Homo sapiens: one gene and its partner. The protein of the gene in region 1 purifies or fractionates together with the protein of each later gene. This does not show direct contact. Each region holds a gene or a part of one and is shown in the gene's direction. Other genes may lie near its edges. The genes, in order: HOXA2 and SYNJ1.

The links.
Region 2: the proteins of HOXA2 (region 1) and SYNJ1 purify together in Homo sapiens (affinity purification with mass spectrometry; one large-scale study listed by BioGRID and IntAct). This does not show direct contact.

The regions. Positions count from the first base shown.
Region 1 is NC_000007.14:27,099,884-27,104,210, reverse strand, and holds HOXA2 (homeobox protein Hox-A2), read left to right. Parts: upstream 1-1,527; 5' UTR 1,528-1,710; coding exon 1,711-2,101; intron 2,102-2,745; coding exon 2,746-3,485; 3' UTR 3,486-3,857; downstream 3,858-4,327. UniProt on the Homo sapiens protein: Sequence-specific transcription factor which is part of a developmental regulatory system that provides cells with specific positional identities on the anterior-posterior axis.
Region 2 is NC_000021.9:32,628,031-32,631,226, reverse strand, and holds the end of SYNJ1 (synaptojanin-1), read left to right. Parts: coding exon of another isoform or gene 1-232; 3' UTR 233-2,464; downstream 2,465-3,196. UniProt on the Homo sapiens protein: Phosphatase that acts on various phosphoinositides, including phosphatidylinositol 4-phosphate, phosphatidylinositol (4,5)-bisphosphate and phosphatidylinositol (3,4,5)-trisphosphate. Has a role in clathrin-mediated endocytosis.

The DNA.
Region 1 (4,327 bases):
CCCTCTAGCACTGTCCAAGATGCGCTCAGTCTCAAGTCTCCGAATTGGAAAAAAGATAATGAAGGAGAACGAAAACCTTTATAATTCCTCCTTGGGTCGCCTCCTCTCCCCCGCAGTGCTGTTTCCCACAACAGAACCCGGAAGCAAACATCCCCGGTGCCCAAGGATCAGGAAGGTGTGGGAGGCAGTTCAGGCTGCCAGGGAGCACTCGCTGTATCTAAACCAACCAGCCCCCAACCAGAGCGACAAGGACAAGAAGAAGGGTAGAAAAAAAAGAGAGAGGGAGGGAAAGAGAGGAGCAAGCATCTTCTCTTTCCCTGCTGGTAACTTCCAACAGACTTCCTGGAAATCGGAAATACTCACCGCACCCGAGCCCTACGGGTATGAAACCCAGAATGCCAGGAGCCGCACGCGCCTGCTCGGGGCGGCATTTCTTTGGCTGGCCGCCGCCCTGGCTACGGGGATTTGGACACATGGACCTGGGGTTGTTGTCTCGCTTGGCACATGCATCTTTCTCCAGCCACTCCTGAGAAGTTGATGGCGCAGGAAGGTCGGGAAGCTTCGAGAGCCGCCTCCCGTTTTCCGCTTCCCGCCGGAGCCAGATGCAAAGCTGCCGTGGAATAGCCTGCTAACAATGGGCCCGGGGCGCAGACTCTGGGCTGGACACTGGGAGGGGGGCGAGAGGCTGAGGGGAGAAGGGGAGGCGGACAGAAGAGAGAGGGAGGGAGAAAGGGGGAGAAGAGGAAAAAGAGGGAAAGGGACAGACAGGAAGGAAAACAGACCGAGAGAGATCAGTTTTGAGATCCAGGAACTGCTTTTAGGAAAAGTGAAGGAGGAAAAGGGAAAGAAAAGGAAGACCCCTTCCCAACCAAAATCTTTCCTTTCTTCTCTCTTTTCTGTCTTCTCTTTCTCCATCTCTCAAACTCTCTCTTCTTCCCTCTCTCTTTATTCTCCCTCTCTCATCTCCTCTCTTCCTCTGCTCCTTTCTCCTGCTTTAACAGAACTTATGTGGCTGGGACGCAGGGCCCTCGGGTGTCAAAACTTTGAAGATTAATGGATTACTTTGTTAATGACTGCAGGCGTCAGACTGAGGTGCTTAAATGATTTGTGAGGTGCGAGGCGTCTTCCCGACAGTCCCAAACAATGCGCGGAGTGTGCGGGGGAGGCAGAGGGCAGCCACCGGCGGGACCGACAGCAGGGCTTACACTCGCGCACATTCACACACACACACACACACTCCCAGGCACACACACTAGATAGATCCTTGCAGATCAGGAGGCACGCAGGCACCCTCGCCCCCACGTACTCCGGGACATCCCCACCCACACCAACATATATGTATTTTTGCTCTGAAAAAAGTGTAAATAAAGCCTCGCTGGCCCCCAATGAGGCGTTCCTTCCCGACTTTTTTGGATCAATCAAACAGACAGTGGCTTCTTTTGATTAAAGCCCAAATTGTCATTGGGCAGAAGCAATCATGTGACAGCCAATTCGGTCCAATTTCAACCTTGTCTCCATGAATTCAATAGTTTAATAGTAGCGCGGTCCCCATACGGCTGTAATCAGTGAATTAGAAAAAAAACACCCTAGCAGCGATATTCTATGATAGATTTTTTTTCCTCTGCGCTCGCCTTTTTCCTAGGCCTTGCCCCCCCAAAGCCCCTCCAAAAGAGGGAACTTTTTCTCTGAGGGGGCTCCAAGGAGAAGGCCATGAATTACGAATTTGAGCGAGAGATTGGTTTTATCAATAGCCAGCCGTCGCTCGCTGAGTGCCTGACATCTTTTCCCCCTGTCGCTGATACATTTCAAAGTTCATCAATCAAGACCTCGACGCTTTCACACTCGACACTGATTCCTCCTCCTTTTGAGCAGACCATTCCCAGCCTGAACCCCGGCAGTCACCCTCGCCACGGCGCTGGCGGCCGCCCCAAGCCGAGCCCCGCGGGCAGCCGCGGCAGCCCGGTGCCCGCCGGCGCCCTGCAGCCGCCCGAGTACCCCTGGATGAAGGAGAAGAAGGCGGCCAAGAAAACCGCACTTCTGCCGGCCGCCGCCGCCGCCGCCACCGCCGCAGCCACCGGCCCTGCTTGCCTCAGCCACAAAGGTCAGTCCAAAGACTTGGCCCCAGGTCTCTGGGACCCTCTTCCTTCTCCGGGCTGCCCCGAGAGTGGCTGTGGGGGGAGGGGAGAGTGGGCTGGGAGAGAAGGAGGAGAGGGAGAGATGCTTGGTTGCCTTGTCCCTGCCCCTGTGGGTTCAGGAGTGGGTTTGATGGAGAGGAAAGGGGATCCTGCGCTCTACAATGAGACATATATATTTTTAGGAAGTGGGGGGAAACTTTCCCGAACTTGTGTAATGTGGGATGATTTATTTGAGTTGGAACTGACCTCCTCCTGTCTAGTTGTCCTAGAGTTTGGCTTTTTGACAGTAATGAAGAGTGATAGATCGCTCTTGCTCAGCTAAGCAGCTGACGCATTAATTATAAATTGTGTTGTGGCTAATATAAAGTTTGCTCCCGGATGAAGAGGTTGGGGGGAGCCACAGGCATGAATTCGATAGAGATGGAGGAGACGGGGTCTGCCCAGGCTGGGCTCCCAGGAAAGGCAGCACAATAGCTCTACTGCATCCAGGGGCGGCCATTTTGTTGCAGTTGATCTTTTCTGCTATATTTATTCTCCAGTGGAATAACCCCGCTCGGACCCCTCCACCTCCAACTGTGCGTGTGTCTCTTGTTGGTTTCCCTTTCCGCAGAATCCCTGGAAATCGCCGATGGCAGCGGCGGGGGATCGCGGCGCCTGAGAACTGCTTACACCAACACACAGCTTCTAGAGCTGGAAAAAGAATTTCATTTCAACAAGTACCTTTGCAGACCCCGAAGGGTGGAGATTGCAGCGCTGCTGGATTTGACTGAGAGACAAGTGAAAGTGTGGTTTCAGAACCGGAGGATGAAGCACAAGAGGCAGACCCAGTGCAAGGAAAACCAAAACAGCGAAGGGAAATGTAAAAGCCTTGAGGACTCCGAGAAAGTAGAGGAGGACGAGGAAGAGAAGACGCTCTTTGAGCAAGCCCTTAGCGTCTCTGGGGCCCTTCTGGAGAGGGAAGGCTACACTTTTCAGCAAAATGCCCTCTCTCAGCAGCAGGCTCCCAATGGACACAATGGCGACTCCCAAAGTTTCCCAGTCTCGCCTTTAACCAGCAATGAGAAAAATCTGAAACATTTTCAGCACCAGTCACCCACTGTTCCCAACTGCTTGTCAACAATGGGCCAGAACTGTGGAGCTGGCCTAAACAATGACAGTCCTGAGGCCCTTGAGGTCCCCTCTTTGCAGGACTTTAGCGTTTTCTCCACAGATTCCTGCCTGCAGCTTTCAGATGCAGTTTCACCCAGTTTGCCAGGTTCCCTCGACAGTCCCGTAGATATTTCAGCTGACAGCTTAGACTTTTTTACAGACACACTCACCACAATCGACTTGCAGCATCTGAATTACTAAAAACATTAAAGCAAAACAAAGCATCACCAAACAAAAACTCCTTTGACCAGGTGGTTTTGCCTTCTTTTATTTGGGAGTTTATTTTTTATTTTCTTCTTGACCTACCCCTTCCCTCCTTTAAGTGTTGAGGATTTTCTGTTTAGTGATTCCCTGACCCAGTTTCAAACAGAGCCATCTTTTACAGATTATTTTGGAGTTTTAGTTGTTTTAAACCTAACTCAACAACCCTTTATGTGATTCCTGAGAGCAGTATGAGGCCTGCAAGAAAGTGATCATATAATTGTATCTTCACTTTCTTTTTATTTTTGTATTACATTGGGATGCATTGTCATGCATATTTTTTGTAGAATAAATTCTCCTTTGCTATAAGTAGCTTATTTTTCTCCCCCTCTTTTTTCAAGGCTCATAACGGGTTCTTTTTCTTCTTTTAGTCTAACTTCGTAAATAAAATTCGTCACAATTTATCCTCTTTTTTCAATTTTAATACATTTATTAAGGCGGCATGTTCAAAGTCTTCAATGGACAGCAACAAAACAGAAAGCCAAAAAATGACTAGGGCTTCTAATAAGTGTTTTTTCTTTCTTTTTTGCTTCTTCTTCTCCTCTTTCTTTTTAAAGGATTTGATTTTCAGTGCACAGGTTCAAGCCATAGATTTAAATTGGTAATAGAGGCAGAATTGGACAGTCTAAGATTTGGGCCAAGCCCAAGCTCTTGAAAGTGGAGAAATAAAGTGCCTACAGAAACCCCCAACTCCAGGAATGAGTAACACGGAGTTTCTTTAATAAGCTACCAGTCTCCAGGTCAATAACTAAGTTATCAACAATTCATTTGTTTATACACTT
Region 2 (3,196 bases), on another chromosome or scaffold:
GTCAGCTTGTTCAGACTTACTGGGTAATCAGCCAAGTTCATTTTCTGGCTCCAACCTGACATTGAATGATGACTGGAATAAAGGTACAAATGTCTCCTTCTGTGTGTTGCCGTCAAGAAGACCTCCTCCACCTCCTGTCCCTCTGCTCCCGCCCGGCACCAGCCCTCCAGTAGATCCTTTCACGACCTTGGCCTCTAAGGCTTCACCCACACTGGACTTTACAGAAAGATAACGCCATGCAATAGAAAACAGTGGGTACTTGCTTTTGGCAGGATAGAGCTAAGAGAATTGGGCATTAGTATTTCATTATGTGCAATAAGTCATTGTAAGTGCACTGATATCTTCACAAAACACCACTATTTGATGTGTACAGAGTTGGACTATGTGTATATTGGAAATAAGGAAAAACCCTTCTCATTGTTAACTGGAGTTTTGATGTATTTCTCTTTGGATGAATAGGAGACAGTAGTAGCCATAAAAAGTACTTATACTTTAGAAAACAGTCCTTATTCAGAAACTTTTCGGTCAGTCTTCTGAAGAATCTCAAAAAGCCCACCCAACTTTCAGCTGACATTTCCACCAGCCCTCTCATACTTGTTAACAATTGGTATCTTTGAGTATTTACCAAAGAGCTGCCAAGGTTACAGTGAACAGAGTTTTGAAAGGCATTGCTTTAAAGGAAAAAAGTATAGGTATGTGTACATATATAATACATACAAACACATGTACTTCTGTATACATTTACATATTTTTACAATTCATACTTTAATTTCTAGGCTATAACTCAGACCAAATTATACCTAAAAGTTCCAACAAAGTCCCTTTTTCAATATCACATTACCAAAAAGATGGCTGCAAATGTAATTTGGACCTTTCATTAATTTTGTTTTCAAAACTAGAATAATCTCACCACAGAATCAGAATTTTCTACCGTTCCACACCCAACCCCTTCAAATACACACAACCTTGTTACTTTTCACTCCAGCACCTTCATACGCTTTTCTCCAGGAGGAGGTTCTTGCAGCTGGAAACAGCCTATTTTGTGGTCACTGTCAAGTGGATGGATATTCTAGCGCTCCCAAAAAAGCACTATGGCCTTATATGCAGGGAAGGCACATACCACCAAGTTCAATGAGAAATATTAGAGCTAACCGTACTCTCTTCTCTGCGTACGTTCGAGTATACGTTGCCCATATCCCTCCCATATTTTCTTTTTGCTGCTTTTGCTCTGGAACTTTGCTTTTAGCAGGGAAAGCAGCTGTCCCCTGAGTGCTTTGAATTGGGAATATACCCAGTGTGTGTTCTCCCCCCTCTTACGAGGCTACATAACACATCTATGATGCTGCTTTAAGTTTTTAGAGGCTATACCTCAAAGTAGCTGCGGATTTTGTCTCCTGCACTGCCAATATGCAACTGATCCCGCTTTTATTAATTTTTTGAAGAAGTACACAGAATTTTTACAGAATGTAGTATTTTGATATCATTAAGTAAACCAATCAGAAAACTCCTTGAGCAATAGTTGTTTCTTTGTCAGTTTCAGTTACAATCATCTTTACCCATTAAGACTTACATTAACATTCCTTTTATATAAAGAGTTGTATATGTCCACCTAAATTCCTATGTCCACACTTAACCTTTAAAGATGTACATTGAGGGAATATCAAAAAATAGCGTTCATGGCTACGAATATGTAGAATGTTAAAAGCACAGCAAACTGCACTGCACTTATAAAGCAAATCTATTAGAAAAAAAGCATTTTTCTAAATGCTCAAATGTTATCAAAATACTATATTTATAGAAGTAATCTTCTCTGTTAACAGCCAAGATTTGCTGTTAGAAATAACTCTTGTGAGTTTTATATTGTGCTTTTTGGAGGTTCTAATCATTTCAGCAGTAGCGTCTTAAACAGCAGTATTACTATAAGCAGTTGCTTCAAAATGTGAATTAACTTGTTGAAACTGTGGCTTTAACATCCATGTGACTAGTGTATATGGTATTTGCTCTCCATTAGCAAAATAATTCATTGTTAGGTAAACTTCACTAGTGCAAATTGCAGATCTGTGAGCAATGTTTCCTATTGAATATAAACTACTGTCTAAAATATACATATCAGCAGCCCAGCCTTTATCAGGAAAATTATACTTGGCAAGTTGCTGAAAATGCACAAAGTTATGAAAGTTAAAGGTATGCTGCAAATAACTAGCCATTATTCTATGTATTATTAAATATTTACTAGTTCTGTTAAAAGCAGAGCAGAAGTTAGACACTAAGGATCTCTTTGTGAACTCTGTGTTCTCTATATTAGATTGCTGTTTATATGTAAGAATTTTATTGCTTATGTGGCATACAATATTTATAACTATAAACTTTATAGAAGTACAGTATTAAAGTCAGTGGTACACAGACATTCTGTACATATCCTGTGAAACGTGCTGTCATATGAAATAAATATATCTGTCTTTACCATGCTGACTTCTTTGTTAGAAAGGGAAGAATTTTTCTCAGCCATTTTCCTTGTACTTTACATACACAAGTTTGGTGACGTTCAAACAAAATAAGCTTAACCCTTATTGCCGAATCAGATATTTTAATTCAAGACCTTATTTTCATTTCTCCAGATAGTGCTTCCTCTAAAACTAAGAAGATTTTCCGAGATTACTAATCATTATTAAAAAGTCCATGCCCAGCCTGGCCCACATGGTGAAACCCCATCTCTACTAAAAATATGAAAAAAAAATTAGTTGGGCGTGGTGGTGCAGGCCTGTAATCCCAGCTACTGGGGAGGCTGAGGCAGGAGAATCACTAGAACCTGGGAGGGAGAGGTTGCAGTGAGCCGAGATTGTGCCATTGCACTCCAGCCTGGGCGAGAAGAGCGAAACTCTGTTTCAAAAAAAAAAAAAAGTCCATGCACTTATTCCATAAGAGAGGCCCTCACGCAAAAACATGCTGACTTGAAAATAATACAAGAAATATGAATGATTTTTCTTACCCAAAGTAGAAGGAACAAGTGGGGGGCAAAGAGGAATTGGGACAAAAATAGCCAATCAGAAAAAGGGACTGCCTAAAGAGACCCAAATTAAAAGGCCAGGGCCGGGCGTGGTGGCTCACGCCTGTAATCCCAGCGCTTTGGGAGGCCGAGATGGGTGGATCATGAGGTCAGGAGTTCGAGACCAGCCTGACCAACATGGTGAAACCC